Linked DNA regions of Homo sapiens. The protein of the gene in region 4 interacts with the protein of the main gene of each other region in a pairwise test. Each region holds a gene or a part of one and is shown on either strand. Other genes may lie near its edges.

Region 1 (7,039 bases), on a different chromosome or scaffold from region 4:
CGCTAGCGGGTCCCTAGGGGATATGATGCGCAGTGCCACTCCCATTTCCTCCCCTTGATTCCTGGACCCGTGAATCCTGGCTACGGGAGAAACCAGCACCATATATTGGATGCTGATACAGAGTACATAGAGCCTTTTGAAGACCCCTGACCCAGCCCTACAAAGTATTGTCACCTAGCTGGCATTGTAATTGCAACTTCAAAAGACTCTACTGCCCTTCTTTCAAGTCAGCTGCTTCAGGATGGTGGGGAACGTGGTCATTCCCAGTCCCAGGTCAAAGACTCCGGAGACCACTCGTACGAGTCCCAGAGTCCAAAGGCCAGAGAACCTGGAGTTCTGACATCCAAGCGCAGGAGAAGAGCATCCCAGCTCCGGGACAGAGAGCCAGGATTCACCCTTCTTCCAGGCCCCCGGCTGACTGGATGGTGCCTGCCCACATGGAGGGCAGATCCTCCCCACCCAGTTGAGTGACTCAATTGCCAGTGTCCTCCAAAAACACCCTCACAGACACATCTGGGGCAGCCCGATCATTCTACACAATGTCAAACCACTGGGCTTCCCTGTCAGCAGAAAAGGGACAGGCTCAGTGTGTACTGAAGCATAGAGAATAATCAATGCTTTACCATCTACCTGGGTATTCCTTAATCTAGTCAAGTTGACATCCAAAATCAATCATCACAGGTCCACCCCTTACCAACTGGCACCCATAGGCACCCACTGGCATCTTCTTAAACCATACTTAATTTCCAAATAAAGGCAATAACAAGACCGTAGTTCCACTTAGCATGATAGGCGAAACCAGTGGGCTCGTGCTCACCGGCCAATTCCCTGCACATGATCCCAGTGCCACACTTCCTTGGTTGTGAAGTGAGCTCCCTGGAAGCAGTGCTACACGGACAGCGTGACAGTGGGAAAGGTGTTCTGTCAATCAATGGATGGTGACTTTGGCAGAAGCACTGTGTGCAGGGAAGACGAATCTGTATCCAGAATAAGTGCCTGCTCCAGTAAGGACAAAACGCTGCCCCTTCCAAAACAGAAGTGGTCCAATGTGCCTTCCACCAGGTGCAGTGATCATCCCGGGGAATGGGGCCATACTGGAGCTCAGTGTTAGTCTCCGCTTCTGGCAGACTAGCAGCCAGTGGTAGCCATAGCCAGGTCGGCTTTGGTGAGTGGCAGTCCATGCTGCTGAGCCCATGCATCACCTCCATCTCTGCCACCATGACCACTTTGTTCCTGAGCCCACCAGGCGATGACAGGGGTGGCCAGGGAAAGAGGCTGACGAGAATCCACCTAGGTCATCCTACCCACATACCTCATGTCCTGTGCGCACTCGGGAGGTCTATCCGTGTCCTGTGCGCACTCAGGTCTATCCACATACATCTTCCCCCAATTGCTTTTTTGTTTGGTTGGGTTTTTTGATACAGGGTCTCATTCTGTTGCCCAGGCTGGAGCAATCACAGCTCACTGCAGCCTCAACCTCCTAGGCTCAAGTGATCCTCCCACCTCAGCCTCCCAAGTAGCTGGGACTGCAGGCATGAGCTACCACGCCCAGCTAATTTTTTATTTTTGTAGAGATGGCGGGGGCGGGGAGTCTCACTATGTTGCTCAGGCTGGTCTCGAACTCCTTGGGCTCAAGCAATCCTCCCACCTTGGCCTCCCAAAGTGCTGGGATTACAGGTGTGAGCCACTATGCCAGGCCCCCAGCTTTCTTTGTCACCAATCTTCCAATCATACTCTTTCCAAGTCCCCAAATCCCTGACCATCCAGCCAAATCATCAGGCACAGCCCATGGATCAGTATATAATCACTCATCTGGCCATCTCTCCTTCGAAGCAAGGTGCACAACCAGGTGCACTGCCCGAAGCTCTGCCAGGGAGGATTTCCCTTCACCCCCATCCTTCAGAGGTGTCCCAGCAAGGGGCTATAGTGCTGCAGCTGTCCACTTTCGGGTTGTGCCTTCATATAGTGCAGAGCCATCTGTAGCCATCTGCAAACCAGGCTGACTAAGTCTTCTCTTCCACTGTCAATCGATCAGAGGGAACTCCCCAGGAGACCATAGATACAGGCTGGAGAGAGAAGGCAGTGGGCAAAGTAAGAACCATGGGCCTTTGGACCACTTCCTCATGTCACTTACTTGTGCCTTCAGGACCTGCTCAGACCTGATCCCATATATACCACTTCCTCTCGATGGCAGCGTTCTGCCACACATGCCCAATGTCTGGTTTGGTCGGTCAGATCATAGATAACACCCACTTCATGATGGGCAGCTCAGGTCACATGGCAACTTCGTGGCTGATGGTCAAACATTAAGTCTCTACTAGGGTCCAGTATTAGGCCAAGAGCTGTCTCTCAAAAGGAATGAAGTTATTTGTGGATGATGGCAGGGCCTTGCTCCAAAATCCCAAGGCCTGTACTGCGATTCATCTACAGGGGCCTGCCAAAGGCTTTAAGCAGCCTCCCTGTCTGCCGCTGACCTCAACCACCACTGGATCTGCTGGTGGCCCAAGTGGCAAAGCAGGTTGCACAGCAACCTGGACCTGTTGCAGTCTTCTGCTACGGGCCCCACTCAAAACTAGAAGCGTTAGGGTGACTCAGCAAATGGGCTGGAGTAACACACCCAAATGAGGAATGTGTTGCCTCCAAAGTCCAAACAGGCCCACGAGGCATTGTGCCTCTTTCTTGGTTGCAGGAGGAAAGCTGTAACAACTTATTCTTCACCTTAGAGGGGATACCTTCACAGGCCTGACACTACTGGACCCCGAGAAATTTCACTAAGGGAGAAGGTCCCCGAATTTCAGTAGAATTTATTTCCCATCGCTTGACATGTAAATGTCCTACCAATAAGGCTACAGTGGTTGCGACTTCTTGCTCACTAGGTCCAATGAAGCATGATGACATCAATGTAATGGACCAGCATGAGACCCTTTTTTTTTTTTTTTTTTTGAGACAGGGTCTTACTCTGTTGCCCAGGTTGGAGTAAAGTAACACAATCACTGCTCACTGCAAGTCTTGACCTCCTAGGCTCAAGCGATCCTCCCACCTCAGCCACCCAAGTAGCTGGGACCACAGGCACACACCATCATGCCTGGCTAATTTAAAAAAAAAAAAAATTTATAGAGATGATGTCGGCCCGGGCGCAGTGGCTCATGCCTGTAATCCCAGAACTTTGGGAGGCCAAGGCGGGTGAATCACTTGGTGTCAGGAGTTCAAGACCAGCCTGACCAACATAGTGAAACCCTGTCTCTACTAAATACAAAAAATTAGCTGGGTGTGGTGGCGCATGCCTGTAATCCCAGCTACTCAGGAGGCTGAAGCAGGAGAATTGCTTGAACCCGGGAGGCGGAGGTTGCAGTGAGCCGAGATTGCACCATTGCACTCCAGCCTAGGCAACAAGAGCAAAAAATCCATCTCAAAAAAAGAGAGAGAGAGAGAGAGAGATGACGTCTCACTGTGTTGCCCAGGCTGGTCTCAAACTCCTAAGTTCAAGCGATCCTCCTGCCTCGGCCTCCTGAAGTGCTAGGATTACAGGAGTGAGCCACCGTGCCCAGCCCCAGTATGATATCTGTGGAAGGGAAAGGTGATCAAGATGACTGTGAACTAAACTGTGACATAGGGCTGGAGAGCTGATATACCCATCAGCCCAGACCGCCAAGGGGCATTGCCGGCCTTACCAGCTGGATGCAAACTGCTTCTGCTGGGCCTTATGGACAGGTATAAAGAGAAGGGCATTCGTCAGATCAACAGCTGCATGCAGTAGCAGGGACCAGAGATGTGTGAATTTTGCAGTCACCACTTGGTTAAGTTTACAATAATCCACTATCAGTTTCTAAAGTCCATCTGTCTTCTGCACAGGCCAAATCGGAGAGTTGAATGGGGATGTGGTGGGGGTCACCACCCCCGCCTCCTCCAAGTCCTTGATGGTGGTGCTAATCTCGGCAGCCCCACCCCAGGGATGCAATGTTGCTTTTGATGTACTATTTTCCCAGGCAGAGGCAACGCTAATGGTTTCCACTTGGCCTTTCCCACCATAACAGCCCTCACCGCACAAGGCAGGGAACCAGTGTGTGGATTCTGCCAGGTGCTAAGTATGTCAACTTTGAATCTGGAACCAGGAAATAACCCCAGGATGGGTTCAGGGATCCACGGGAGCCACCAGGAGTCAAACCTAAGCTAAAACTCCATTGATCACCTGACCTCCATAAGCCCCTTCTCTGACTAGTGGGCCACAGTGAGTGATATTTTTGGTTTCCTGGAATCAGTATCAGTTCAGTAACCAGTTATCCCCGAACAATCTAATTATTTCCCTTTCCTCAATACATATTCACTCTGGTAAAAGGTCACAGGTCCCTTTGGGGAAGGCTAGGAGAAAAATTAATAGCATAAACTTTCTCTAGTGTACTGAGGTCCTTCTTCAAAGGGATCCAGCTTCCAATTCATTCATTCATTCATTCACTTATTCATTCACTTATTCATTCATTCGTTCACTTATTCATTCATTCGTTCACTCATTCATTCATTCACTCATTCATTCATTCATGGGGGCTTAGTTGTGTAAACTGGGTTAAGTCTGGGAAGTTGATTGAGGGCTGTGATTTTCTGTTTTAATTATTTTTCTGTTTTAATTATTCAAGTTAGACTTTTTTTCATTTGACCTGTAAGTTTCTGCTTATACAGAAAACTTAAAAGAATCAAGTAACTTATAAGATCAAGTAAGAATTTCACGGGTTTCCTGTCTATTTCACTTCTAGGAACACCATGATTAACTATCCAATGCCATAGATCCACACAAGTCAGACTATTCTGACGGCAGCTTTGCCTCTGCCGTCCATTAGGTAACCACACTCACCTTGCCTTGGATGGCTGAGTACTGCCACTTGGCCGCTGCACTCCAAATGCAATTACTCCCGTTGCATTTAAGTTTTCCATTTGAGTGACTGCGGCTCCCACTGTAAGGGCTGGATCACGGAGCTCTTCAGGGATGCTGGGGCCCCCTCACAAATCTATTTCTCAACGTATGCGTGAAAGATCTGTCTTCTGAACCTTCCCAGTGTGGGTGAGTAGCTTTTAAGAGACAAATCCACTCCAGCATTCCAATGTCCCTAAGCCTTTGAATCCCTAACTCTACATGAAACCTAAGCCTATGAATCCCTAACTCTACATTAAACCAAAGGAGACCCAGAAACTCCAACTTACTCACAGTGGGTCATCCTTTGATCCATGTTCCAGTCAGCCAACCAAACAGATCTCTTCTTAACCCCCTGAGCTACAACATCAAGTGCAGAATCTCCGCTTAGTGGGCCCATATCCATAAATTCGGCCAGATCCAACTTCATGTTCGTTCCACATCCTAATATCCACTCCCACACATGCTCCCTTGGTGTCTGCTTGTATAAATTAGAAAACTCAAGTGGTTCTCTTGGTGTGGAGTGCAGCTCCTCACTCTGACCTTGGAAAGGGTGTGACCAGATTGGCCACACTCTGACTGTCTGGCAAGGTGTGTTCACAACTGGGGCACCCGTCAAGCCCTTGTCACAGGTAGGTTTTTCCAACCCTGGAATCCTATATTCCTACTCAGCAGTCATTTCTCAAGTGTGGAGTTTGCATCCTGATATTTTCTTCATCTTGTGCTCAAATCACCCAATGCCTCCCTAGTTTTCCAAGAGACGCCCAAGGGTGGCAGAGGTTCTTGGATTCCTCCACCCATCGCCTACGCAGTAAACTCAAGAGGGTCAGGCTAAGCTTCAGGTCAGATTCAGAGCTTGTTGACAAACCATTCTCACAGTCACATCTCCTGACACCCAGCCCTGCCACAAATCCCATGCCTGCATTGCACAAGGTCTGGACCTCAATGGCAGGCAAGGCTGGGCTGTGCCTTGGCGGATTCTCTTCCCCATCTCCAAGAAAGGCCCCGAGAGCCTAAGCCTGTTGTTGATGTGGTCTGTCTCATGACCACTGGACTCATTTATTTTTAACGTTGGGCAATGAACAGAACTTTTAAAACACAAAGCAAACAGGCAGCTTCCCAAAGGTTTCAGGGGGTTGGCAGCAGGACAGATCCCCCAATGTGCTGTTGGGTTTTGCCATCCTCCCTTTGTCCAAGCAAGGAAGGAGCCTCAAGCCCAAGTCAGAAAGGACGTACATCTCCCGACTCTTGCCCCGCATAGAGTAACAGTCAACCTCTTTGAGATGTGATGCTTCCTTTAAATGCTTCTTAGGAAGAAGCTACAGATGACCTGACATCTTGTATTTGCTTCAAAATAATCCAGCGTGTGTGTGTATGTGTGCATATATGTGTGTGCATATGTATGTGTGTGTACACATGTGCACATCTTCTGTGAGCATAAGTATGCATGTGCATATGTGAGTATGTGTATGTGTGTGCATGCGAGGTGAGGAAACCTGATCGCTCATTATACTCTGCCTCTAACTTTGGTGTGTTTGACATTTTCCATAATAACAAAAAATTTCACTAAAAAAATGAGCCCATGCTTCTTGAAGAAAAGGCTCAGGTGGTGGAGGTGACAAACTTACTGGTGAAGGGCTTGGGTGCCAAGTCTGGATTCGAGTTTTGGCTCCACCATTCCCTTGCCGCGAGACCTTAGCCAAGTTACCTGCAATCCTCAGCAGAATGGACATGGAGGCAAAACCCACTTCTCAGGGTCCTCAGGAAGCCCATGAGTCAATGCGTCAAGGACTCAGATCAGAGCCAGTACTCGCACGCACCGTGAAACCATGAAACCATTTCCCGCTATTATTATGCTTAGGATTCAAACAAAGTCACGTCCATAAAGCACTCTGTAGCACAGAGCCGGGCACCTGGCTGCCAGTGGAACTTTAGACTGGGGGAGATGTTATCAGATAACTGGGGGAGGGGAGAGCACTCACTGAAAGTCCAAAATCGAAGTCCCTTAGAGTCTGGATTTCACTGATCTAGTGTTGAGGGCTGGGGAGAGGATAACACACCCCTGGGCAGACTGAGGCACACCTGTACCTGACCTTGTGCTGTCGTCTGATAAAATTTTTCAGAACCAAAAGATAC
Region 2 (3,273 bases), on a different chromosome or scaffold from region 4:
AACCTATACAACTGAGGAGAAATCTCTTCAGTGGATTCTCAGAGGATGGACTCCAGATAGATATACAGTGCATCACACTCTTCACCATCCCCATAGTAAATACAATAGCAAGATTCATGGGCCTGTTTCTTCTAACACCTGTCAATACAAGCCAAAGCATCACAGAGAAGTGCAAAGTTAAAGCATCTCAAAAGCGGCCAACATGATGCAGCCCAAATATAGTGTAGTCAGAAATACTGTTTAAAATGATCCACTGGTTAAAGACCCACTATTTAACACTACTTAATCTGTTTAACTCAGATTTTCTAGTATTTCGAATACTAATGACATATTAGGGAATTCTTAATACTAGATGATATCTGAAGTAAGTTTTACTTGCCATACCCTAATCAAAATATAACAGCACTGACAAAAATCCCTAGGAGGCAAAAATAAGACTTAAGACTAAAATTCCTGACTTGTGATTATGAATTTAGTACCTATGTGGACAAAAAATGGTCATTCCTCAAAAGCCAAATAAAGCACCAGACAGAATTATATAAAAGTAATTACAAATTAAGAATTTATTTATAAGTTTTCATCTTTTTAGAAATAAAAAGGCTTAAAAAACAAAATGGTTGCAAAAATGGTTAAGTAGTTTTGTTATATCCTAATTGCTTAGGTGTGCTCTGTAAATTCCAAATAAGTAAAATAATATAAAAATACATTTTCATATCTTTATAGAACAAAAACAAAACATTAAATGCTTTTGGATTTTCTTTACTCCTCCCACAGATGAGTTCACAAATACAAAAACTGGTGTACATTTATACTCAAGTACAAATCTCCAACAGCCAAGTAATTATAGTTTGTTCTGTTATGTGCAAAGTAGATTATTTCATATTTACTTGGTATGGAAAGCAGAGTACAGGCTCAATGGACAATAATCATTAAACACAGATTATGTTTAAGAAAATGCTGTTGTAAAAATGTACAATAGTACATACAATTTTGGTAATTATGCACTTCTTTTAAAGTAAATACAGCTTTTAGATATAAATCTTTCAAAGGTTTTCTTTGAAGAGCTGTGAGGTGACTATTTCAGATTTGATGAACAGTAATTTGTCAGTAAACTTCTCAAAAAACCAATCCAAGAAAGAATTGTTTTCTTTTTCCCTCCATGTGGTCGGTTTCATTCTTAAGGAAGGTCTGATGCAGTAAGAAGATGCATTTCACAAACCTTTACACAAGTTTGTGAACTGTCAACTAAAGACACCACCTCTGATGTGGATGGTTTCATTCAATCCATGTTCGACCAGCTTTATATCTTCTAGATCGTCTTTAATGATGCTAATCAAATGGCTAAGGCCTTCCTGTTGTTGTTTCAAATGCTAGAACAAATTAAGAAACAACATATTAATGTATTAATTTCTTAAAACTGCAAGCTAGTCACAGGAAAAAAGACTCCACTTTGACTATTTTACTAGCAACACAGTACCTAGTAAGTGCTCTAAATATAGAGGGCATGCATATTTAAACATTTGTACTACATCTTTTGCTAACAGTGAAAGACAAACTCTAAAGAACAATAAAATCAAACAAATATATAATGAACAATATCTTCCAACAAAAATGTTTTTTAGATAGCTATTCCTTTTACCAACTTTTGATAAAGGCATGATAATAAAACAGAACTCAAAGGAGGTATTCAAATATAGATGACTAGCAAAATAACATTCTGAAAACTGAGAATATTCATGTTTTGAAGTACAAAGTACATAGTGATAATGGTGGTGATGACTACAGATGCTAACATTTTTTTAAGACTCCTCCTCATGGGTTAAGGTGCTGTTTTAACAGTACTGGTATTCACTCACTTAACTCATTTAAAATCCTTTTGAGCCCCCTTTGGGGTACCATTATCATCTCGACAGTTAAAGAAACTACAGGTAAATAACCTGCCCAAGGTCATAAAGTAGATGGTGAACCATGATTCAATCCCAAAACAATACACTGCTCATAATTTTAAAAAAGACAGGTGTTTAAATTATTCCCAGTTTTATTGCATATATCAACTCTATTTAATACAACTATTTATTTCAATATACTGGAACCTGTTAATTTATTGCAAATACTTAAAACAATGGAATATAATTGGTTATGTGTGTAATATCCAAGAACCTGGAAGCCAAAGTAGTTTTTGGTTGCATAAAACCAGCCATATCCATTCTAACATAATAAAATTGGATTTGTTGATGACATTTATAATCTTTATCTAAAATCCTCAGGGCCATGCCAACAGTCATTAGCTACCTAGTATGTTCCACAAAGTTCATCATCTTCATATATTTTCTTTAGATACAACTGTTCATTTTCATTAAACCAATCTGCATTTATACTAATGAAAATAAGCCAAAGCAGTGTTTCCCAACTTTTTCACACAATGTGAAAACCCTAGAAAAGTGGTTGGAGGTTCTGGCCACCTCAACCTACCTCCATCCAGATCTCCTGAGAGCTTAGGGGACAGATCAATAACCAAATGTTTATAACTTACATGCGACATATAGGCAGGGAAGGTATTATCTAGAGCAGTTGCTTCTCAAACTTTAAAGTGCATACAAATCATTCTATGATCTTGATAAAATGCAGATTGAGTACGTCTGGAGTAAGGACTGAAATTTTGCATTTCTAATGACCTTCCAGGTGCGGCTACTACCTACACTTTAAGGAGCAAGGTCTAGGAAACTTTAGTGTCTCTACTACCTCTAAATTCATCTTTTTGGCGAGGAGAGGGATAATTCACTTTTTTAAACAGTGGCAAAACAGGCATACCATAAAATTTTGCCTGTAACTATTTTTAAGTATACAGTTCAGTGGCATTAGGTACATTTATGCTGTTGTGCAATAATCAACACTATCCACTTTGTTTAGAACTTTTCATCTTCTCAAGTTGAAATTCTGTACCAGTTAAGTTCCTCCCATCCCCTCCTCCCCTCACACCCTGGCAACCACCTTTCTACTCTCTATTAATTGGACTACTAGGTACTTTTCATAAGTGAAATCATAAATATTTCCCTTTTATGAGTGGCTTATTTCATGAAGCATAACTTCTTCAAGGTCAAATTGCATTGTAGCATGTGTCAGAATTTCATTCTTTTTTCAAGGCTGAATAATATTCCATTGTGTGTCTATATACTACATTTTGTTTCTCTATTCTTTGATTGATTCTTGGGTTATCTCCACATTTTGACTATTGTGAATAAAGATGCTATGAACATGGGTGTACAAATATGT
Region 3 (7,474 bases), on a different chromosome or scaffold from region 4:
TAATGCTAGTGACACTCACAGTGACGCCAACACGTGAGTGCGGGGCTGACTCTAGGCCTAGCCTGCTTCTAGCTCCTTCCTGGGATGGAACTCAGTTTGCCCTCACAGACCTCAGTGAAACGGGTGCTGTGAGCCTCCCTGCCTCAGAGTGGAAGACACAGCTGGGCAGTGAGAGCCAGACCTGCCACACAGGCCACCCAGCCCCAGCACCTGGCTCTGCACTGCTGCGATCTGTGGAATGAACATGGCAGGGGAAGCCGACTCTCTCCATGCCTGAGTGCATGGCATTTCAGAGCCAGCTCTCTGGGTTTGGGGTTCAGCTGGCATGAGGTCTGGTCCAGGCAGGCTGACCTGAAGAGGAAGGCACAGGCGCTGGTGTGGCCTGTGCTCACGACCACCAGAGGACACCCCAGCTTTGCCCAAAAGCTCCCGGAGCCCTTGTTTTTCCCTGGCAGTCATGTAGCACCCTTCCCTCCCACTCAGCACAAAAAGCCACAGAACAGAGAAAGTCTATCCAGGGGGCCTTTAATAGCTGAGAAGTGCTGCTCTTTCAGATGGGGGTGCCAAGCAGGCCGGTGACCCCAACCTCCACCCCCTGCCCCTGAGAAGAGACTGGGCTGGGCCAGAGACCAATCCACGGGGGAAAGGCCACCAGCACCCATCAGGCTTCCCACTGGCACCCTGAAACCTGCCCAGGCTGGGCCGCCAGCGTCGTCCACAGGCCTTGGCCAGCGGGGGCCCTCAGGGAAGCAACCCAGCTCGCATCTGGAAGGCCAGGCAGTCCCCTCGGGTGGCTTGCTGGGGAAGAAAGCACACAGGAGGAGGGGTACATCACAAACAGAGCTGGGGGCGGATGGCAGGCAGAGGGGCCACACCCACCTTGTTGATCTCTCTGTGTCGTTCTTTGGTTACGATTTCCTCTAGGACCTCGCCATCTCCCTTAATAAGCCTGGGGGTGGGAGGGTCTCCGTTCAGCAAGGAATAGGCAGGTCCCCTAATGCCAGAGGAGCAGAACCACAAGCAGCCGGCAGAGGGGTCCCAGGGCTCCCACCCCGCAGCCTTGAGTGGACAGACCCTGGGGCCTCACCCACTCTCCCTGATGAAGGCAGTGGAGCTGGGCTCTGCCTTGCCAGCCTCAGCCCGGCCAACAACAGCCCTTTCAAGAGCCTCCTCCAGGCCCTTCCAGCCCCTGCAACTACTTACTCCAAGTGACCGTATTTTTGCCCACATTTGGCCTTTTTCAGGCACCAGGAACCCCGCCCGGCCCCACTCCTCCCGAGAGCACACATCTTCAGCCAACACTCCCAGATCCTGTGGTGTAAGTCAGGCCGAAAGCTCCCCACCTGGTGCGCCCCGTCTCAGGGTCCACCACCTTGCGGATGATGCTCTGCCGGGCATCCCACTCCTCCTTGGTCATGGGCTTCATGGCCTGGATTCGGGACTTCTGCTCATCCGTCAGGACTGGAAGGGAAGACGGAGGTGGTGGCCAGGCCTTGGGAAGCGACCTTCTCCCTCTCAGGTGCTGGGCAGCACAGTACCTGGGCCATCCTCTTCCTCCCCAGCTGATCGGTGCCACTGGTCCAGCGAGGGGCCCGGCAGAGCCTCCACCTGCTGTGCTTCCGCCTTCTCCTTGCCCTTCTTCTTCAGCTTCTTCCTCTTCTTCTTCTTCTTCCTCCTCTTGTCCTTGTACTTCCCCCGCTTCTTCCGGCCATCACTGGAGGAAGAGGAGGAGGACGAGGAGGAAGAAGAGGAGCTAGAAGAACTGGAAGAAGAGGAGGAGGAGCTGGATCTTGTTCTCCTCCGGGCCTTCTGCTTGCTTCTCTCTGTGATGCAGGGAGAAGGTGAGGCTGGAAGGCCAGGAGGGGAAGAGGTAAACCTTCGTCCCCTGCTCTGGCCTGGGGCAGGCACAGACCGGCTACAGGGTGAGCGCTTCCTGAGGGGCTTTCCAGAACAGAGATGGAGCTTCCCAGAGGAGCCCCTTCCTGGCTCCTGCGGCGCCTGGCCCTCACATCTCAGGCCCGGCTGCACAGAGGCATGACTGAGCGTCCCCGACCACTGCTCGCCCGACTTCCCCGGGTAGTAACTGCGCCTCCTCTCCCCGATGCCTGTGGTCCTCACCCTCCGCCCCAGGGGCCGTGCTGGCCTTGCGACCTTGGGATGTGGAGGCCGAGCAGTTCCTCGAGGTGTCTTTCCTGCTCTTCTTCTTTCTCTTTTCCGACCCCCGTCCCCGGGACCGGCTGCGACTCCTCGAGCGCTTGCGGGAGCCGACGTGAGCCATGGCGCCGCGGGCTGGCGACGAAGAAGACGCGCTTGAGCCGAAGCCCCCAAGGCCGGCCGCGGGCGGGCTCCAAGGGTGGCTCTAGCGGGGCCGGGGCCTGGCGACGCCCAGTACCCGTCACCGTCCCGGGAAAATGAGCGACCCTCACCCACCCCCAGCGCTGGGGACCCCGGTTTTCTCCGCCGACTCCAGTCCCCGCAGCGGTGCCTGTTAAGGGCCCGCCCCGTGCCCGGAGGCCCCACGCCTGCGCACCCGGCTCCAAACCCCTGGGAACTGGCCGCCGTCCGCCGCGAGTGGCGTCTGGGGCGCTTTCCCGCGCTCTCCTACCCTCCAGCCCCGCGCCCTTCGCGGCCTCGCCGCCTCAAGGGGGCCCCCGGGGCTGCTCCGTTCCCACCTCGACCGCCCTGCGGGCCGGACAGCCCGCCCCGCGCCTTCTCGAGAGGAAGCGGCGGCGAGGAGGCTTCCGGCCGGGGCGCTGCGCGGGAGGCTGGCCGGCTGGGAAGCGCGGCGCCGCTGCCTTTCGTTCTGACGCCCCAGGTTCCGTCCCGGGCGCGCCCACCTCCCGCAGAGGCAAGCAGGGGCGCCGGCCCTCGAGCTCCGCAGCCCCTCACGCCTGTGTCTGCCGAAGCTGCGCCCACTTCCAAGGCTGCCCTCTCGGCGCACGCCCGCAGCACCCACGCCCCCGGTGCCCTGGGAAGAAGGCGACCCTCGCGCGCGCCGCCCTCCTCCCCGGCTGGTCCTGCCCTCTCCATACGACTGCGAGCTCCAGACTGAGGCGCCCTGGTCTTTCCGACGCGCCCACCCAGTGACTCAGAGGTCGCAAACTCGTGTCCGTAGGGGCCAGAAAGATCTTGGCAGTGAGCGCGGGCATGGACCCCAGGCCCATCCGGAAGGAAGCCAGGATTCTGCTCCAGCTGATACGTGCAACGTGGCATGGGGCTGGTGCCCCACCTTCCCAGGGAGACCAAACTCAAGACTGCAATATGGAAGCCCCCTGAGTTTCAAATGTGTAACCCAAAGCGTGGCTGTGCGCTTCATCCAATCTCGGGCCCCCAAGTTGCAACTCTTCCACAATGACAGCCGCAAACACAAAGGGATCTTGCAAAGCACTTTATATACGTCAGCGCATTTGACTCCCAAAACAGCTCTAGGAGGTAGGTGCTAAATGAGGAAACGAAGGCACCAAAAGGTGAAGGCTCACCTAAAGCCACACAGCTGGAAGTGGCAGAAGCAGAATGGGAACCCGGGCAGCCTGGTTCCTGGCCCTGCCATTCACCCCTCTGCCATCTAGAAGATGCTACTGGTGGCCCACCCGAGTCCACTGGGGGGTGATGCCTGCTGCTGAGGGTTCACATCTGTGCTCTCTGGAGGCTTCCCTTGGCTACTGGAAGGCACCCTGCCCTGGAGATAAGTGTCTGGGAAGTTATTCACTCCTCTCTGGCCCCCTCATCCAGGAGCCAGTAACCGGTGGTGTGGGCACACTGTGGTACTGTGGGCTCTGCCTGGAGCTCTCCGTGGGGCCAGCTGAGGCTGGACGTCCTCTGAAGCCACTTCCTTGCCCAGCTGCTCCCTCCCCTCCCCTGCTTCCCTGACTCCCTCGCTGAAGCCCCATTCCAGACCCTGCTTCTGACAAACCTGAACTAAGGCAGCATCTTTGCCCATAGAATGACCCAGAAGCTGGCACACCGTTGAGCCAAGAAGTGCAGTAGGCTGCGGGGATTTTATTTCTGCCCCCAGACCAAGGCAACGGAGCCCTCACCTGCCTGCCACCCCCACACTGGGCCCAAGCAAGCTCAGGTGAGCGCACATACATCCACCGTGGCGGGCTCCTCTCGGGTGAAGCCATCACCGAAGCCCTCATCGTCCACCAGGTCGGGCTCACGGCAGCACATGGGACAGAGGCTGTTGCGCACAGCAGAGGCTCGGAGCCAGACGACAAGGTTCCAACGCTCACCAGTGCCCAAGGGCCGGGCTCCATGCAGCTGGCCGCCACGGTGGAGGACACCCTGGCCCACCACGTGCTCCACCTCCAGGGGCTCCGTCAGGGCTGTGGGTGCCTGCAGATGGCACGACTCAGGCCTGGGCACTCACAGCTGCCCCAGGCCCTGCCGCATGGGTCACACACTCACCTGGAAGAGGCCCCCAAAATACAGGGCGCCCCCTGTGAAGACCTTGCCCAAGGCCACATTGAGGGTGAGCTCGGCATTATCATAGTGGCAGCCCAGCTCCAGGTCCTGGCCCGGTGCGTATTTGACCACAAAGGCCCGGTGGCTGTCGAGCCGGCCCCCGCCACAGTCAGGGTACAGCAGGGCCATCAGCGGCTGCAGGAAGCGCTCCCGCAGTGGTGTCATCAGCGGCTCGTCCAGCCCGAGCTCGTGCAGCAGCACCTGGGAGGGGATTCCTGGGGTCAGCAAGGAAACTAGAGGGCTGCAACCCTGGGCTTCCACTCCACGGTGATCCCACTGTGACCTTCTTTCGCAGCCCGGGCAGGCAGCCCATCTGCAGAACCTCTGACACTGCCTCCTGACCCCAGCCACCCCCTCCTCTGCCACCGGCCAGGCCTCACCCACCCCGTAGTTGTTCATGGTGTTGGGCCTCCCCTTAGGCATGTCCGATTGCTCGAAGTGCTCCAGCTCTTCCAGCAGGGCCTGGCAGAAGGGCGCTGTGAAAACAGGCACCCGGTAGATGCGCTTCTCCTCTGTGGAAGGAGGGATGGTCTGTTGGCCTGAATGTGGCCGTGGGCCGGCCAGGCCTGGGCTTCAGTCTTCCTGTTTCATCACCTGTGCCATGGAGATGAGGCCTTTGCTTTTCAGGGCTATTGTGATGACTTAAGGAAGTAACATGAGGAGCAGGGGAGGCCGATTCCCATGCCCCCCACTTATGCCCGGAACCTTTCCCCAGACTCTACAAGTGTCCACAGGGCTGGCCCTGGGAGCTCACATATGGGTCCTGAGGCCCAGAGAGGGGAAGGAAGTAGCCCAGGGACACCCAGCAGGCCAGTGACAGCCAAGTCGGGATCACAGAGCCAACTTCAGGCTCTCTCTGCACCTCCTTTCATCTGATGAGCCACCGAAGTCTGTACCCCAACTCAGAAGTGGCTCTGGGAGCCTCTGTCCCCCAGCAGGAAGGCCAGAAGGGGCTGTTCTTTCTTGCTGGGCCCTGAGGGGGAAGAAACCAGGCTGAGAATGGAAACCTAAACATTTCTTGGCGGACGCACCAATGCCCAGGGGTGCAGGGCTAGTGTGCCCACGATGGGGCCACCTCGCAGCCTAGGCCCTGCCCCAGCCAACAGCCTCAGCACTATCTCAGCTGCCGGGGAGTGGAAGGCAATGAGGAGAGCACCCCCAGGCTGGGAGGAGGGGGATTCATTCCACCCATGACTCCCAACAAAGCACAGGCTCCATGAGGGGAAACTTGTATCTGCCTCCCACAGGAGCCCCTAGCCCAGGCTATCAGTGCCAATAAGAATAGGAAACACTTTCCAAACACTACGTGCGGGCCCTGTGACAGGCACTCTATGCAGATTAACTCACTTGATCGTCGCAGTGCCTTAAGAGAGGGGGTTACTGTTGCTCCCATTTTACAGATGAGGAAACTGAATCAGAGGTTAAACAACACGCAAACCTCCCTTGCCCAGCATTTCCTGCTGGGTTTAGCCAATAAGTGAGCCCAGCAAGAAATCCGAAGAGAAGTGGGGCATTTTTTGCCCTACTTGGAGTTTGGCATGGCCGCAGGCCTCCGCCCAGAGCCACAACTCCAGGTGGTAACTGCTCCCTCCTGTTGCCAGCCCTGGGGGGCCGGGCTTTGCCATTCCTTACTGGTCCCTTTATCCTGCCCATACCTGTCTCAATGGTCCCTTTAAGATCTTGGATCAGCCCTGTTTGAGTGTGCCAGCTGTCCCACACATGACACAAATATCCACTATTTGCTGGATGAGGGCACGAAGGAAGGGTGAAGGAAAGAATGAAGATACCAGGCTCATGGCAGGTATTGAATGAATGAATGCGGATGTCCTGCTCCTGGCAGGTTGGTCCCACTGACCCTTCCAGCTCCTGCTGGTTTGGTTTTTGGAGGCAGAGATGGTGGCTGGAGGGACCCCAGCATCCCACACCCAGGTTTCCCAGGCTGCCATTCCCTGGTCCTGCCAGGTCTCAGGGCCAGGACCTCACCCGATACTGTCTCCAGCCGCTGGAGAAGGCCCTTGAGGTCTGCGTCTGGGGACACGCTGTACTCAGTCACGGCCAGGAACTCGGGGGCCAGAGCTGCATCCTGGGAGCAAAACACACCAGCTGTGGGGCAGGCAGCACCCCCAGCCCTGGATGCTACCTCCTCTTTCCAGTACCGGCCTTCAAGCACTCTGGCTGGCTGGTACCTGCAGTGAGTCGTAGACCTCAGGCCGTGCCGGGTGGTAGGAACTCGCGATGAGGGCTTTCCTAGCTGCTGACTCCTGCCCCAGCCGCTGCCGCCGCTCCACCTCCTGCTCAAGCTGGGGTGGCACAGGGTTGTTACCAGGTGGGGCCTCCCATCCTCCTGAGGCCACTGTACAGATGAAGAAACTGAAGCCCAGAACGCCAGACAGGGCCCAGGCTGGAAGCCAAGTCTAGCCTACACTCCTGAATCTATCTGGGTCAACTGCAAGTTCCAGACTGTTAGCTGAAAGGGACTTCTAGAAGGGGACCCATCCTGTTTCAGGCTGCCCCAACCTGAGCCTAGCTGGGATGAGAACCCCTAGATGTACCTCAACCATCTGGGCCCACACAGGGACAGGAGACAGTCATGGCCAAGTCCTGTGTTCCAGAGGTTGCTGAGGACTCTCCTGGGAAGCTTCCCACCACTGACTCCAGGGGAAGGAGGAGGAGGGAGTGGGGCAGCAGCCCTGGCAGCAGCCTGCGGGGTATATGGTAAGGTGTGAGGAGCCCAGGGGCCTGGAAGCTGTGGCTGGGATCACATCTGCTCCTGCTGTAAAAGCTTGGGCAAGGGATCCCTCTTTAAGCCTCAGCTTCTCAATCCAAAATGAGAGTGGTGCTTGTGCTTATCTCACAGAGCTGTTAAGAACGGCATGACTAGGCAACTTAGCAACTTAGCATTTCCCCTTCTCTCTCCTGGTGCCAAGACTCAGGTGTGGAGGGATGAGTGGGGGGCAGGAAGGAGGAAAGTGAGGGCCTAAGTGACCCTTCAGGGATCAGGGACTGAGGC
Region 4 (5,899 bases):
CTGTGCACTCAGTTGGAGAAGTGCTAGAGTGATGAAGGTCCCGATAGCCTAGGAACATTAAGCCCTCCAGTCTGTGAATCTCCTTAGCTGGGGCATAAGGGGCAGTCACTTTCACTCTTCAGAGCCTGTTTCCTCATCTGTAAAGAAAGGATGATAACTTCTGTGCCACAGAGCCATGGAGTGATCAAATGTATGCAAAACCATGGCCAGTTACTGCCTGTAACTTGTTTAAAGGCCAAGAGAACCCCAAGGAAACCCTGATGGGAGTAGGATTGGTAAATAAGATCGGGGATCAGGGTGGCCAGGGCTGGGCTCTGGAGTTGCCCACAGATGGCCCTTTCACTGTCCACCTGGCCTGTAGCAAAGTTAGCTCCAAGTCTGAGCTGCATTTCCCAAGCCCTTTCTGGGGACATCTACTACAAGGATTTGTCCCAGTGTAGCATCTATCAGGCTTCCCTCCTTGCATGTTCTGAGGACCAAATGGAGCCCTTTGCCCTCAGTAGACGCAGGGAACGACAGGGCAGAATGAAATCACTTTAATAGCATAACAACATTTTCAGACCAGGAGTCACAGATGAAGAAAACATTTTGTCTTCCATTTGCACAATTCTGGTGAGGTGTGTGGTTGCACTGGACAATCTTACAGACACATTTTTCACATTGAGAACTTAATAAATAGATACATACAATGTCAAACTCCACAGACAATGAGTTATGAGTGTGATTGTTTTCTTATTCTGCCTCCTCTGGGTTGGGAGGTTGCTTCCCGTTGGGCTGATGGCGGCTGGGTCCTCTAGGAGGGGTACTCATACTCCTCGGCACTGCGACGGCCAAAATCCATCCAGCCCATGTAGTCCCGGTCACTTATCCTGTGGCTGGGGTCCAGGTTCTGCAGGTTCTTAACGATGGACATTCGTCCAGAAGGAGCTACAAGGAGCAGGGAGGAAGGAAACAGGGACATTGCATCTAAAAGCATCTCTAGTTCAATTTGGGAAGGAGAGCAATGGAAAAAGCCAGACGCAATATAACAGACACCACCTTAAAGGTATCAAAGAGCTATCAAAGTAGTGGAACTGATGGACCAAAATCTGAGAGAGGAGAAGGACCAATGTCTGTGTAACTGGAGAGAGGACAATATATTTACAAGTTAGGGGTGTGCTTTGCGTTCTGCAAGTATTTAGGTGGATTCATTTTCTCTAGCCTTGCAGTCTGGGGACTTGCCTAGATTTTCCTTAGTCTCCCTACCGTTTGCTTTCTTTTGGTAGATGGGTGTTTTCCTTTTGTAGATGGCATCAGCAGAAACCAACCAAAGATTTTTCCAGTACTTAATTGTTCCTAAATTCATCCCTTAATATCCATCAACATTCCTGACTCCTGGAGAGCTCTTGTTATTAAGGTGGCACAATTATAATATCTTGATGTTGGAATGGTTAAAAAAAAATCGTTGGTGGGAGTGTAAATTAGTTCAACCATTGTGGAAGACAGTGTGGCAATCCCTCAAGGATCTAGAACCAGAAATACCATATGACCCAGCAATCCCATTACTGGGTATATACCCAAAGGATTATAAACCATTCTGCTATAAAGACACATGCACATGTACGTTTACTGCAGCACTATTCACAATAGCAAAGACTTGGAACCAATCTAAATGCCCATCAATGATAGACTGGATAAAGAAAATGTGGCACATTTACACCATGGAGTACTATGCAGCCATAAAAAGGATGCGTTCATGTCCTTTGCAGGGACATGGATGAAGCTGGAAACCATCATTCTCAGCAAACTAACACAGGAACAGAAGACCAAACACCGCATGTTCTCACTCATAAGTGGAAGTTGAACAATGAGAATACATGGACACAGGGAGGGGAACATCACACACCAGGGCCTATCGGGGGGTGGGGGTTAGGGGAGGGATAGCATTAGGGGAAATACCTAATGTAGATGACTGGTTGATGGGTGCAGCAAACCACCATGGCATGTGTATACCTATGTAACAAACCTGCATGTTCTGCACATGTACCCCAGAACTTAAAGTATAATAAAAAATAGATAAATAAAGCTCCTTTGCTACATAAATACTCTTTTAAAAATATGAATTTGAAAGTTATATTCAGAAAGCTTTTGTCATTTATCAGTAAGTGTTTTGAGTTGATGATCATTTTATTTTTAATGATAAATCAATATCAATTAAAAATGATATTCAGAAAAAGACTGTCGGATTAAATCTTGGCACCTCAGTAAGACTCAAAGAAGGGGGGGAGAGAGGTGATAACAAAGGTGATTTAAATCAGCAATTTTGACCAAAATGCAATAACTGAACCTGAAATTGTCCCATTGGGATGGAAGTTAAGTCTTCAGGAACAGTGTGATCCTTTTGTAGAGCTCACACTGAGTGAGCAGGGACATGAAGAGGCAGTTTATTTGGAGACATGAGACAGTCCTAGCTCAAAGTTCATAGACAGAAGCCTCCTGGGGTATGAAATCAGCAGAACACCTTCTCCTGTGCAAGCTCAGTCTTAAGAAAGGCCCTTCAGGGACTTCAATGGACAAAGCCCAGGCCAAATCAAGGGTAGAGGAGTGGAGGACCACTCAATGACTCCCACTGTGTTGGGGGCCACTGTATCCCCACCTCCTGTCATGCTGGTCTATATCCCTTCTGCATGAGGCTGCCCTTGCCAGCTCCTACCCATAGGCTGAGTAGAGTCAGACTATGGCTTATGTGTTGATAAATGAAAATGCAAAGGCAGTTACCCTGGGTAATGAAATTAAGCAAGTTTAATTAAAAACAGAAACAACACAGAACAACGTCCCCACCCTTTCTCTCCCCAACCCCAACCCTTCCCAGTTTTGGAACCAACAGTCAATTCAGCACATTTCAGGTCTTTTTGCAGATATCCTCAGCCTACGTAGAAGAAAAATAGCCCCTGCTATTTAATTGTTCATCATTCAGGTGAAATATTACCCTTGAATTCAGGAAAACCTATAGACCCAGTTACCTGTACACAGTCACATGGAAACATGACCCATCCTTCTGCCTGCTGTGATGATGAGTGCCCACTCTAAGGCCTGGGCACAACCCAAATTTCCATCTAATGGAAGCAAGGTGACAGCTTCAATACGAGCAAGCAGCCTCAGTTAACGGTGGGGGCACCATGTTCAGTCATGGAAGCTGCATTTATCACACACCCTGACTTCCCCGTTCCACGTACAGTTCTGTCCTCATGTCATGTGTATTTACCAGGGTCCTCACTCACTTTCCCAGTGCTGACATAGAGTAGGGGCTTACATCTGATGTATGGAATTGATCAAAGCCTGATTCCTATGGGCCACAAGAGATGGACGGGCCTCCCTCTGAATCACACAAAGAATTGGAAGGGGCTTATTGGAAAGCTAGCCTCGGGACTGTCTGCATGTCACTCAGCTAGTGGGCTGCTGAATCACCTTATTCCTGGAGAAAGACTTTGGTGCTGAGAAAACAGTGACTTTCTTAGCTCTTGCTAAAACTGAAGGGTTTAGCTCTTTTAAACTTTAAAATGTGGAATAGGCAGTACAGCTAGGAAGCTGAATGGCTTCCAGGCCCTCCTGGGGGGAGCAGGACTAGATAGAGTCTCAGCCCTGCTGTTGCGTAGATATGCAACTGCATGTAGGTTACTCAGGCTTTTAGAGCCCCAGCTTCCACACTGGCAAAATGGGTATAATAATATTCACTGTGCAGGGCTGTTGTACTGAGAAAGACAATATAGATGTAGCATTGAAGCTTTGCTGGGCATGGGGGAGGCGCACACTAAATGCCTCTAGATATCTTTACCCACTGCCCTCCAATAGAATTGTTTCTTCTTGGGCCATTGAAAGTGCTGCAGATATTTCCTAATGATAAACTCTTAAGTACTGCTCAAAGAATGCATTGTCTTGTTTAGAACTTTTAAGAATAATATATACTATAGTGGAGCAAAAATCTGATATGATCTCAAAATATGTAAAATATTCAAAATATGTAAAATATTCTATATACTGCACATATAGAAACTGTGCAGTATCTATATGTGTAAGTATTTAGTCCTAGTTCATGTTTGTCACATAGAAGAGTTTGCTTGTTTTTTAGCTAGAGTTGATCCTAGGTGTTGGCATCTAAATTTCCAAGTGATTGCTATTCCCTCCTGGGTTTGTTTGGCACAATTGGCTGAAGGCAAAGGGAGAGGGGGGCTGAGAAGAGGGACTAGAAAGAACTTTCCAGCTAAGATTTATGCTATAAGAGCCATTGTCTAGTATTGGTTCTAGGAAATAATTTGGTAATGAGCTTTTTTTTTTTTCTTTTTTTTCCCTAGAGCAATTTTGGAACCAAGACTCAATTCGGCACATTTCAGGCCTTTTTGCAGATATCCTCAGCCTACATAGAAGAAAAACCAGGGTCTTTCCTAAATTGGAGGAGGGGAGTCCAGGTCCACAGTTAAATGAAAAGCCTAGGATATTTCAGACTGGTCTGGCTGAAATTCAGCCTGTATCTGGGGACAGATACTAAATTATTTTCAGGCAGAGAATCAGCAGGAACTCAAAAGCTTTCAGACTTTCTCTCTCCATCTGAGAAGTATTTCTATCTTTTTCAATTTAATTAGCAGGAAAGCAAAACACAAGGTGGTGGGTGGGGCAATTTCCCAAAGACAGGAAGAAATACAACAAATCACTGATTTGTTCTTTCCTTCTGAAGCCTCTGGGTCAGAGTTCCAGTCTTCCCTTCATGTGAACCCACAGAAGAACTCTGCAGAGCCAAAACTCTTCATCTTATCCCTCTCTGGTCAAGCCAGGGGTTAAGGTTCAAATCCAGGCCCTGGAACACCAGTTGGGTAAGAGAGCTTCATGGAAAAGGCAACACACCTACCACATCCCTTCCAGCAGTGTTTGCTAAGTTCTTTTTTTTTTTTTTTTTTTTTTTAGACAGTTTCACTCTTGTTGCTCAGGCCAGAGTGCAATGGCACAATCTCGGCTCACTGCAACCTCCACCTCCCGAGTTCAAGCTACTCTCCTGCTTCAGCCTCCCGTGTAGCTGGGATTACAAGCATGTGCCACCATGCCCAGCTAATTTTGTATTTTTAGTAGAGATGGGGTTTCACCATGTTGGTCAGGCTGGTCTCGAACTCCTGACCTCATGTGATCCACCTGCCTCAGCCCCCCAAAGTGCTGGGATTACAGGTGTGAGCCACTGCTCCTGGCCTGCTGAATTCTTTTAATGTCCAGCTGTGTTTGTACTGTTCAGCACACTGCTCCACAGCCGGTGTTCATCATTAGTGTCACTGGGGATAAAGTTGGCAGAAAAAAGCTGCCCCAATCCAAAGCATGATTCCTATGGGTCACAAGAGATGAATGGGCCTCCCTCTGAATCACACAAAGAATTGGAAGGAGCTTAGGGGAAAGCTAGCCTCAGGTCAGAATTGCCTGCATGCCACTCGGCTAGTGAGCTGCTGAATCACCTTATTCCTGGAGAAAGACTTTGATGCTGAGAAAACTGACTTGCTCAGCTCTTGCTACAACTGTGACCATCTCTGCAACAGTAAAGTAAAAACAAATACCTCTCTTGTTGGGTAATAATTTGTAAGTCATTGCAAGGAGAACACAAAACTGCTGCTGATTCTTTCCTTCTGTTACATACTTTGGTGGAAATGGACACATTGTCACTGCTTTTTTAAACTGTTGTAGCCAGATCTCAGGCATTCTCAGCATTGACCCCTTCCTGCTAGAGGATTTCCAAGGGTTGGTATCTGGGTGGCTCCAAGGTCCTTTGCGTTTTCAGTAGAGGGTATTCACTGTATCTAGGAACCCTTTCCTAGGCTTCAATAATTATCTTTTAATGGCTTGGTAAAATGGTGTTGAACTTAATCAGCAACACTGCTAAAAATTA

Evidence for each region.
Region 1: the proteins of CCK (region 4) and SPSB1 interact in binary tests that used the Homo sapiens proteins (3 or more experiments, as listed by UniProt).
Region 2: the proteins of CCK (region 4) and NUP54 interact in binary tests that used the Homo sapiens proteins (3 or more experiments, as listed by UniProt).
Region 3: the proteins of CCK (region 4) and ARL6IP4 interact in binary tests that used the Homo sapiens proteins (3 or more experiments, as listed by UniProt).

The regions. Positions count from the first base shown.
Region 1 is NC_000001.11:9,295,868-9,302,906, reverse strand, and holds part of SPSB1 (SPRY domain-containing SOCS box protein 1), read right to left. Parts: intron 1-7,039. UniProt on the Homo sapiens protein: Substrate recognition component of a SCF-like ECS (Elongin BC-CUL2/5-SOCS-box protein) E3 ubiquitin-protein ligase complex which mediates the ubiquitination and subsequent proteasomal degradation of target proteins.
Region 2 is NC_000004.12:76,114,125-76,117,397, forward strand, and holds the end of NUP54 (nucleoporin p54), read right to left. Parts: intron 1,371-3,273; coding exon 1,242-1,370; 3' UTR 540-1,241; downstream 1-539. UniProt on the Homo sapiens protein: Component of the nuclear pore complex, a complex required for the trafficking across the nuclear membrane.
Region 3 is NC_000012.12:122,975,944-122,983,417, reverse strand, and holds ARL6IP4 (ADP-ribosylation factor-like protein 6-interacting protein 4), read right to left. Parts: upstream 2,738-7,474; 5' UTR 2,673-2,737; exon of another isoform or gene 2,431-2,672; intron 2,290-2,430; 5' UTR 2,279-2,289; coding exon 2,119-2,278; intron 1,848-2,118; coding exon 1,539-1,847; intron 1,462-1,538; coding exon 1,344-1,461; intron 950-1,343; coding exon 880-949; intron 799-879; coding exon 742-798; 3' UTR 509-741; downstream 1-508. Other genes in the region: OGFOD2 (2-oxoglutarate and iron-dependent oxygenase domain-containing protein 2), read right to left, coding at 4,072-4,335, 4,408-4,665, 4,849-4,976, 6,448-6,547, 6,651-6,764.
Region 4 is NC_000003.12:42,257,305-42,263,203, forward strand, and holds the end of CCK (cholecystokinin preproprotein), read right to left. Parts: intron 928-5,899; coding exon 794-927; 3' UTR 522-793; downstream 1-521. UniProt on the Homo sapiens protein: This peptide hormone induces gall bladder contraction and the release of pancreatic enzymes in the gut. Its function in the brain is not clear.